Regions from separate parts of the Homo sapiens genome. Here all the other regions are linked to region 3. The links come from fine-mapping of genetic effects on gene expression. A gene starts in region 3. Each other region holds a variant in brackets. All regions are shown on one strand. Distances are from middle to middle.

Region 1 (2,759 bases), 180 kb after region 3:
CTTACTCCTGGTAGGCCTGGGAAAATGTAGATTACTTCATGTCTCTTCAAAAGCCTTTCAAAGAAACAAGTCAAGCTTGATTTGTGTTTTTGAGATAGAGGAAAGTAGTAAGGTAGGAGGACAGAGGAAATCTTAGCTTTAAAGGGAGAAAAAGATCTTTCAGTCCTTTTGTCAACACTTTAGTTTCTGCATTAGTCATAGGTCCCTTCCCCCTTGGCCATGGGTGGACCAAAGGAATAGCAGCCATTTGCACGTTTGTGAAAGGACAGTGGAAAGAAAAGAAAATAGCTGATACAAGAAAATGTGGGAGATTATTTCCCCCACTAGGTTTTTACAGTTGTATTTTTAGATTAATCAGTGGTTTCTGGATATTTGGCCTCCTTTTTTTTCTTTTATTTTGCTGTTTTTGATGTTATAAAATACAGTGCTAAGAACCTAACCCTATTAGTGAGATATTATTCAGAGTCTAATTTTTTTATTGTTATAATGAAAGTCATGTAGAATGCAAAGCTAGTGGACACAGTTAATACTCATATTTGGTAGAAATACTTTTCCTCTACCAAGCTGAGTTCAAATTGTGGGCCTGCAAGTTAACTGATACTGGACAGGTTAACTGGAGAAAAGATAAGGTTTATTCACACTTGAAGGAGCACTCAATATCAGTAACTCTGAAGAAGAGTTTAGAGGGTTATAGAAGTAAGGGGTTATGCCTCTTGCTGTGGCACACCACAGATGCCAGCACTTTGGGAGGCTGAAGTGGGTGGATCTCTTGAGCTCAGGAGTTTGAGACCAGCCTGGGTGACATGGTGAAACCCTGTCTCTACCAAAAAAATTATAAAAATTAGCCTAGCGTGGTGGCAAGTTCCTGTAGTCCCAGCTACTCAGGAGGCTGATGTGGGAGGATTGCTTAAGCCTGGGAGGCGGAGGTTGCAGTGAGCCAAAATGGTACCACTGTACTCCAGTCTTGGCAACAGAGCAAGACCCTGTCTCCAAAAAAAACAAGAAGTAAGGGGCTATATACCAACTTAACAAGAGGGGGTAGCTTAGGGAGTCAAAGGACAGAAAGATCTCATTTACACAATTTTTTTGTTATGTCTCAGTGCCCAGTGTCAGTCATCTCCCTCCTGTGGATCCTCCTGGAGGTGTGAGAGGGTTGTGACAGCTGCCTCAGTAAAGCTCTGCTTTAGTCAGATAAAAGAAGTTAAGATTTCATTCTGCATCTGCTGTTGTATTTTTGGGCCCTTCACTGATTTTTTTTTGTTTTAATATTTGTATGTAGTCTGATGCTTTTCAATGTATTTTCACATACCTCATTTTATTCTCACAGGACTTTTTAGGCAGACAGGGAAAATACTATTATCCCATTTCACAGGTCAGAAAACTGAGACTCAGAGAGGTTAAGTATTTGTCCAGGGCCACATAATTAATAACAGAGCCAAAATAGGAATTTCAGGTATTCAACATTTCTCAGTGTACCTTTGGGGTCCAATTTGAGTACTCATAAATTGTGTAATCTATTGTCAATCTATAAGTCCTTTAAAAGTGCCA[C/T]GGTTAAGTAATAATTTATTTGTTTTGTAGGAGAAGATGGTATAAACTGGTCCATCAGTGACAAAGACATTGAGGTAAAATCAAATTGTTTTTAAAATTCAGAATAATAATTTCCTTTGCTTCATAGTTTATTATGATAACTTTTGGAACATTAATAAGTTTAAGTGGCTTATAAGAAAACATTTGATTTTAGCATATGAGTGATTTAACTCTTCAGAAACTTGGTTCAGCCTTGAGTTTTGTCAGTGAGTTAATAGCTGTAATCATCCAGTCCCCTTTCCCTTTCTGTTTCTCTCCTGCGGTGAGTCCTCTCAGCCCATATGGCCTGGTACCACTAAAAAGATCAACACCGGAAATAACTGCTTCTTCAGTGTAAGGAAATGGTTAGTCTATTTTTAGGATGTGGCAGGTGTTTGTCTTTGTCGATTATTAGCCTTAATTGTGGCAGATGCTACAAAAAGAGAATAATTTTATAACTTGGTTTTGGGAGATAGCTAGATTGTACTTACATGTGGTCCACTTGGCCAGTTCAGCAAAATAACAAATAAAAGATGAAAACTTTTTTAAAGATGGAATTCTACCAAACAAGCTAAAGCATGGTTGGGATTTACAGTTCCTCTTTAGATATTCCATATGATATGCATTGTTGGTACTCTCTTACAAGATCCTAGATTTAGATTAGAATATGGGACAGTTAGAATTGGGTCACTCTGTAGGCAGAATGGATCTTAAAAGGATTCCAGTGGAAAGAAATTATCTCATTCCTTTATTTCTATAAAGGAAGACTGGATTATCAGTCTTTTATTATCATCCAGTCTTGTAGGCAGTAACCCTGTGCTGTTCAAAAGAATGGATATATTGGGTAGCTGTACTAACTTTACAAAAGACAAAGTCATAAAAACACCATTCCCTAACTCAAAATTTAAGTAGCCCTCCCATTCAGAAAAACATGGTGTACATTCAGTTATAGAAATCAGCAGTGGCTGGCCGGGCGTGGTGGCTCACACCTGTAATCCCAACACTTTGGGAGGCTGAGGTGGGTGGATCACCTGAGGTCAGGAGTTCGAAATCAGACTGGGCAACATGGCGAAACTCCTTCTCTACTGAAAATACAAAAATTAGCCAGGTGTGGTGGCGGGCGCCTGTAGTCCCAGCTACTCGGAAGGCTGAGGCAGGAGAATCGCTTGAACCCAGGGAGGTAGAGGTTGCAG
Region 2 (2,759 bases), 64 kb after region 3:
TGCTTTATTATTTGAAATGTTATTTGTTTTCAGCCTGGTGCAGAAATCCTTTTCCTTCAGTTATATTTTAGAACCACTGTGTGAGTACATTACTTTTTAGGTTTTGGGCCTCATGGACATTCTTAGCAACTTGTTTTCACAGCCCTTTCTTTGATGTTCATTTGAACCATAGCGTTGTTGATATTCAGAGTATTTTGACCTACAAACATAAACATTTTATATGGTTCAAACTAACAGTTAATTTGCTTCAGTTTACCAGGCATGGATGAGTACAGTTTCAATGCTAATAGCAAATATTTTACTTATTTTACTTTCCTGAGCACTTTACATGTTTTCACTGTTTTCCTCCTCACATCAACAACCCCAATGAATTTTATCTCTCATTTATAAATAAAGAAATAGGTGTAAAGAGATAAAGTAATATGCCCAAGTAAGTGGGAAACTCAGGATTTGAACCCAACTCCTCTTGCTCCAGAGTCTACACGCTGAACAACAATGCTATTCCGCCCTCTACCCTTGATCTAGTCCCCTCTTGGCCATCTGGTAGTTTTGTAAATTCAAGCATAGCTCCTTCTATGGCCTTGAGCCCCTCCTTTCCCTGCACAGTAGAGAGGGGTTGGACTTTTATTGGATTGTGTTTGTATTGTAATTGTGTGTTTTTCCAGATGTGTTTTCTAGCCACAGGAAGAGATACTCAAATAAGTCTTTCAACAGTATCTATTATGCTGACATTCACACTTGTTTGTGTTATTTTGTACGTTTTGGAAGCCTTCTGTAGTTAAGTATTAGTTGAGCTAATTCCTTACTGTTTTTGTGTCATACTTTGTTATGGAGCAACGTAATATGTGTATGTTGTTAACTGAATCGATAGAAATCTAAGAATCAACTTGGTCTATATCATCTGATGATTCAGGGGCTGGTTTGGATCATTGATAAAGTAAATTATTCCCTGTTTTACTTAACTCCTTAGTGGCAGTTTTCTAGATTCCCATTATTGGCTTGCATCAAAAAAAAAAAAAAAAAGGCATTTAAAAAGTTATGCCAGAGCTGGGAGAGCAAGAGGTGCTCTATGTTTTACTGATGGGGCCTGGCAGGATCCTATTCCTGCTCTCCTGATCTCTTATCCTGAATCCCCTGACACCTCTATTTCTGGAATTTTTCTCTTTTGTACTTGGTATCAGTAAGGAAATACATAGTACGAATACCCTGAGAGAGATTTCCAGCTTTATTTATTGATCTGACTGTCTTTCAGCTGATAAAATGCTATTTTATTACCCAAGTTTTAACCTCTGTCTGGTGA[T/TTTG]TTGTTGTTGTTGTTGTTGTTGTTGTTGTTGTTGAAGTTCAGGCTGCATGTGGGATAGGTTTGCTCAGGCATACTTCTTAGGAAGTAGTCACTTGCATGACTGTTTTTGGGATAACTCTTTGAGTATTTGGAGAGGTCTATTGTAACTTCTGAAAGGCATTGTTTTTACGTATGAATGTTCTAAAATTCATTCTAAATGGTCATGAAAAGAAAAGGATTCACATTTTAGAATGGCAATAGTCCCTGAGGACTATTATGTCTTTTAGATTTCCTGTGGGTTTCTAGGAATGTTAGTGTAACTTAGATTTCCACCTACCTGATTTCTGGATGTGCCTATTGGAACTTGCTGAGATCTTTTTTTTTCCTTAACATGTTGTCCCCTTGACCCGTACTTCGAAACTAAACATATTATTTTATTTGCTTACACTTCAGGAGGCAATTGGCAGACACCAGGCCAACAGTCTCTAGAGGTCGTGGGTGCCATCTACAAGTAGTCATGGTTTTTTATTGTATTTTAAAGTCCGCAAAAGATCTCTTGCTATGTTAGGTACACATACTATAGGTGATCACCTCCTATCCCTTAGGAGTTGTGATCATCTACCATCATTTGGACACTCATTTAGGCAGTCTTCCTGGGTGTTCCATTTGATCTGGTGTTAAATGATAAGGTGAATATCAGGTTACAATTTAGAGCCTTTAAATAAATAAGATGATGTATTATTTTGCATATAAATGTACACTGTTCTTGTTTGCTACTTAAAGGAATGTATTAGTTTCTGAGGGCTGCTGTAACAAATTACCATAAACTCAATGGCTTAAAACAGCAGAAATTTCTTCTCTCAAGAGTTCTGGAGGCCAGAAGTCTGTTGGCAAGCTTGGTTCCTTGTAGAGCTCTGAGGGAGGCCTGTCTGTGCCTCTTTTCTGGTGTCTGGTGTGGCTGGTAATCTTAGGCATTCCTTGGCTTGTGATTGCATCACTCCAGTCTTTACCTCTGTCTTCAGGTGGCTTTGGTCTCAAATTTTTTTCTTCTTTTTCTTCTATGGACACCTGTCATTGGTTTCAGGGTCCACTCTAAATTCAGGATAATCTCACCTCAAGATCCTTAATTATATCTAGAGGGACCCTGTTTCCAAATAAGGTCACATTCAGAAGTTCTTGGGGTTAGAATTTGGATATGTTTTTGTGGGAGGGGACACTATTTGATGCACTATCAGGAATATCTGTTCATTCATGCATTTTATTTATTTATTTATTTATTTATTTTTACAATTTCAGCCAATTTGCTAAGCATCTTACATTATACAGTACATATGTTATACTTTTTTTCTGGGACATAATATTTTGGAGATTGTATTATTTCCCATCTCATTATTCAGTAAACCTGAACTCTCACACTGGGATTTTGTGGGGTTGGGGGTGTGTGGAAAATCTGTTTTATTAAACTTAGTTTGCTATAATT
Region 3 (2,759 bases):
AATGGATAGCTTATGTTATTTTAGTGTCAATTCTTGGTATGTAGTTTAGCAAAAGCCTCTTCTTTTTTCCTTTAAAAATTCACTCGTGGCCGGGCGCGGTGGCTCACGCCTCTAATCCCAGCACTTTGGCAGGTCGAGGCCAGGAGTTCGAGACCAGCCTGGCCAACATGGTGAAACCCCGACTCTACTAAAAATACAAAAATTAGCTGGGCGTGGTGGCAGGCGCCTGTAATCCCAGCTACTTCGGAGGCTGAGGCAGGAGGATGGCTTGAATCTGGGAGGCGGAGGTTGCAGTGAGCCGAGACCGCGCCATTGCACTCCAGCCTGGGCAACAACTGCGAAACTCCGTCTCAGGAAAAAAAAAAAAAAAAAAAAAAAAAAAACCATAAAGAAAGAAAAAAATTCACTCGTAGCTGCTACAAGAAGTGTAATGGCTCATGCCTGTGATCCCAGTGCTTTGGGAGACAGAGGTGGGAGGATCGATACCTTTAAGCCTGGAGCTTCACAAGACAAAGAACTCAGTTGAAACTGCTGCTTATCGGATCACATATTAAGGGCAACTTGAATTGATGATCCCAGGTTGCCCTCATCAAACTTGGCCCAAATAAATTCTCCACTTATATTAACTTTGCCTCAGTTTTTCCTTTAGGTCGACAGTTATTTCTAAAGTTCTACAGATGGGTTTACCTTGTATTAAAATAAGGTGTGAGAAGGGCAAATGAAGCCAGAGGCTCCCAGCACAATCTTGCAACCTTCAGAGACTTCCAAAGGATCAGCATTAACTCCAATATTTAGCAGGAGTGCAGCTCTTCGAGATTCACAAAGTGTTAATCTGTTGCCTAGAATTCCAGAGAGTTGGAGGCGCCCAGTGTGAACTGTGTTCCGCCTAAAAGAAAAAGCGACCAGCCTAAGATCATGAGCGCAAGGGAGAAGCTTGAAGCCATGCGCTCTCAAGTACGCGTTTCCCGCTGCCCAGGTCTGCGGGCCAAGCAGCCAGCCACGCTGGCCCTCGTCATGCACGCGATCAGCTAGGCTCCCGCGCCACGTGGCACTGAGAAGGCGTCCACCGAGCGCCAGGGAGAAGGAGGCGGAGCCCGGCCTCAACCTCGCCCGTGTCCTCATGGGGGTTGTAGTTTTCCTCGCGGGGGTAGAGGGCACGAACTCCCCGGCTTTTGCCCGGTAAATAGCATCTCCTTCGTACGAGTCATTCAAATAATAGATGCAGCCTAGGTAGCTTCAAGAGAAGTTGGGAAGGGGAAGGGGGAAAGCAAGGAAGGCAAACCTAATAATTATGGGCGGGGCAGAGAACGGTTCGCACCCACTACGCATGCGCACATCAGGCGCGGCAGGTGGGCGGGGACGGAAAGGCGGTGACTAGAGCTGTGTTGTCCCCGGAAGTGCCTTCCCTCCCGGGTCTGCGCGGACGCGGCCTCCTTACCTCATTTGTCCTCGCCCCTCCCCGTCCCTCTACGCGTTTTGGTTCCCGGTTGGTGCTTCCTGTTCGCAGCTGCGGCAGTGAGTATGTGTGTGACGGACCCCCGCCGCCCGCGGCTCGGGACCCCTGCCTACCCTCCTTCTTGCCCGCCGGGCTGTGGAACTAGCGCGTGCCCCCTCGCCGGCCTCGACGTCTCCCGTCCGCCCCTCACTCGTGGCAGGGCGCAGCTCCTGGTCCGTCACCTGCGCGCCGCCCCACGCGGCCGGGCTGCGGGTCTAGGGGGTCCGCGTCTCCCTGGCTTTCCAAGGGCTAATGCCGTGATTCTAGAGCGGCTGGGCGTCTAGGGCCTCGGTGAGGGTGGCGTGTCTGCCCTTTTTATTTCCCCGCAAGGCCCCCAGTCTTCTAGGGAAGCCAGTCAGTGAAGCGCGGAGGTCCCGGCGCGCCGAGAGAGAGTCCAGTCTTTGAGGACCGAGTAGTCCTGGGCCACCTCCCGCCTCTGCTGTCAGAAGCAGCAGCTGCAGCAGTAGAATCCAAAATTTCGGGAGCTGTGACCCTTTCCTCATGTAAAACGAGTAGACTTGGACTGTGTTTACTAAGGCGCCCTTTATCCCTCCCATCCTGTGAGCGGACAGTTGCCTTCAACTTTTGGGAAGAGCTGCTGGTTCGGTGGAAAAGCTGTGGCTGGGAATCAGGAGGCCTGGGTTCTAGCCGTGGCTCCCCCACGGATTCGCTGGCGATTCCAGAAAGCTCTTATTGAAGCTGAATTTAAGATTATTTCAGATTGCACAGTTGAATTACGGGCTGCATTAGTAGGGCCTTTTTAGCTCAGTGAATAAGTTTCTCTGAGCTCCTTTCTCCAACTATAAAACGAGAGCGTTCAATTTGATGACTTTTCAGGTCCCCTCAGAAGCTCTTGACTTTGTGGTTTTCTTTTTCTTTTTAAAATTTTTTCTAGGACCGTTAGAGAAATGACTTCGTGTTTGAATAGTTAGGCTGTCGCATACAAAGACTTTTAAATGGATTGTGTGTATACTTAGGAAAGCGTTATGCTTTCAGGAGAATCTGAGCATGGGGAATAAAGTCAGGAAGGATCGCAAGTGAGGATTATATTAATATGATAATTAGCACGGTAAGAGACTGCATGACCGAAGGAAAAGGGCTAAGGGAAAGGTGAAGGAAATGTTTCCGGATAGGATTAGTTCTCGTAAAAATCATATATATATCCCAAGAAGAGCTGGGACTTAAGTGACTAAATTTAGCTTATTTTTTTTCCCCCACTGAAATACTGTGCTCTGTTTGTCTTTTGTGACTTTTGTTTTACACA

Which allele goes with the higher level. Alleles are on the strand shown, and positions count from the first base shown. SD is a standard deviation of normalised expression in the study named. Not every link is listed here.
For the expression in prefrontal cortex of the gene that starts at base 1,466 in region 3, T is the high allele of the variant in region 2 and TTTG is the other (small effect, 0.39 SD a copy in CommonMind).

Evidence for each region. PIP is the estimated chance that this variant, and not a neighbour inherited with it, causes the effect. A credible set is the group of variants that fine-mapping cannot tell apart.
Region 1: its variant is the best candidate, but not a certain one, in a credible set for the expression of ZCCHC7 in tibial artery (GTEx, PIP 0.65).
Region 2: its variant is the best candidate, but not a certain one, in a credible set for the expression of ZCCHC7 in prefrontal cortex (CommonMind, PIP 0.76).

The regions. Positions count from the first base shown.
Region 1 is chr9:37,300,610-37,303,368 of GRCh38, forward strand. ZCCHC7 (zinc finger CCHC-type containing 7) reads left to right here. Exons shown (of 9, transcript NM_032226.3): 3 at 1,579-1,622. Among named protein-coding and RNA genes, the nearest start is that of LINC01627, 93 kb to the right of the region's middle. RefSeq lists an enhancer at 1,883-1,932. The variant C/T (reference allele first, on the strand shown) is at 1,549.
Region 2 is chr9:37,183,387-37,186,145 of GRCh38, forward strand. All of the region lies in intron 2 of ZCCHC7 (zinc finger CCHC-type containing 7), which reads left to right. All of the region lies in intron 1 of LOC105376033 (a long non-coding RNA gene), which reads left to right. Among named protein-coding and RNA genes, the nearest start is that of ZCCHC7, 64 kb to the left of the region's middle. RefSeq lists an enhancer at 1,188-1,762. The variant T/TTTG (reference allele first, on the strand shown) is at 1,301.
Region 3 is chr9:37,119,109-37,121,867 of GRCh38, forward strand. ZCCHC7 (zinc finger CCHC-type containing 7) reads left to right here and starts at 1,466. Exons shown (of 9, transcript NM_032226.3): 1 at 1,466-1,515. LOC105376034 (a long non-coding RNA gene) reads right to left here and starts at 1,292. Exons shown (of 3, transcript NR_188580.1): 1 at 688-1,292. RefSeq lists an enhancer at 1,128-1,207.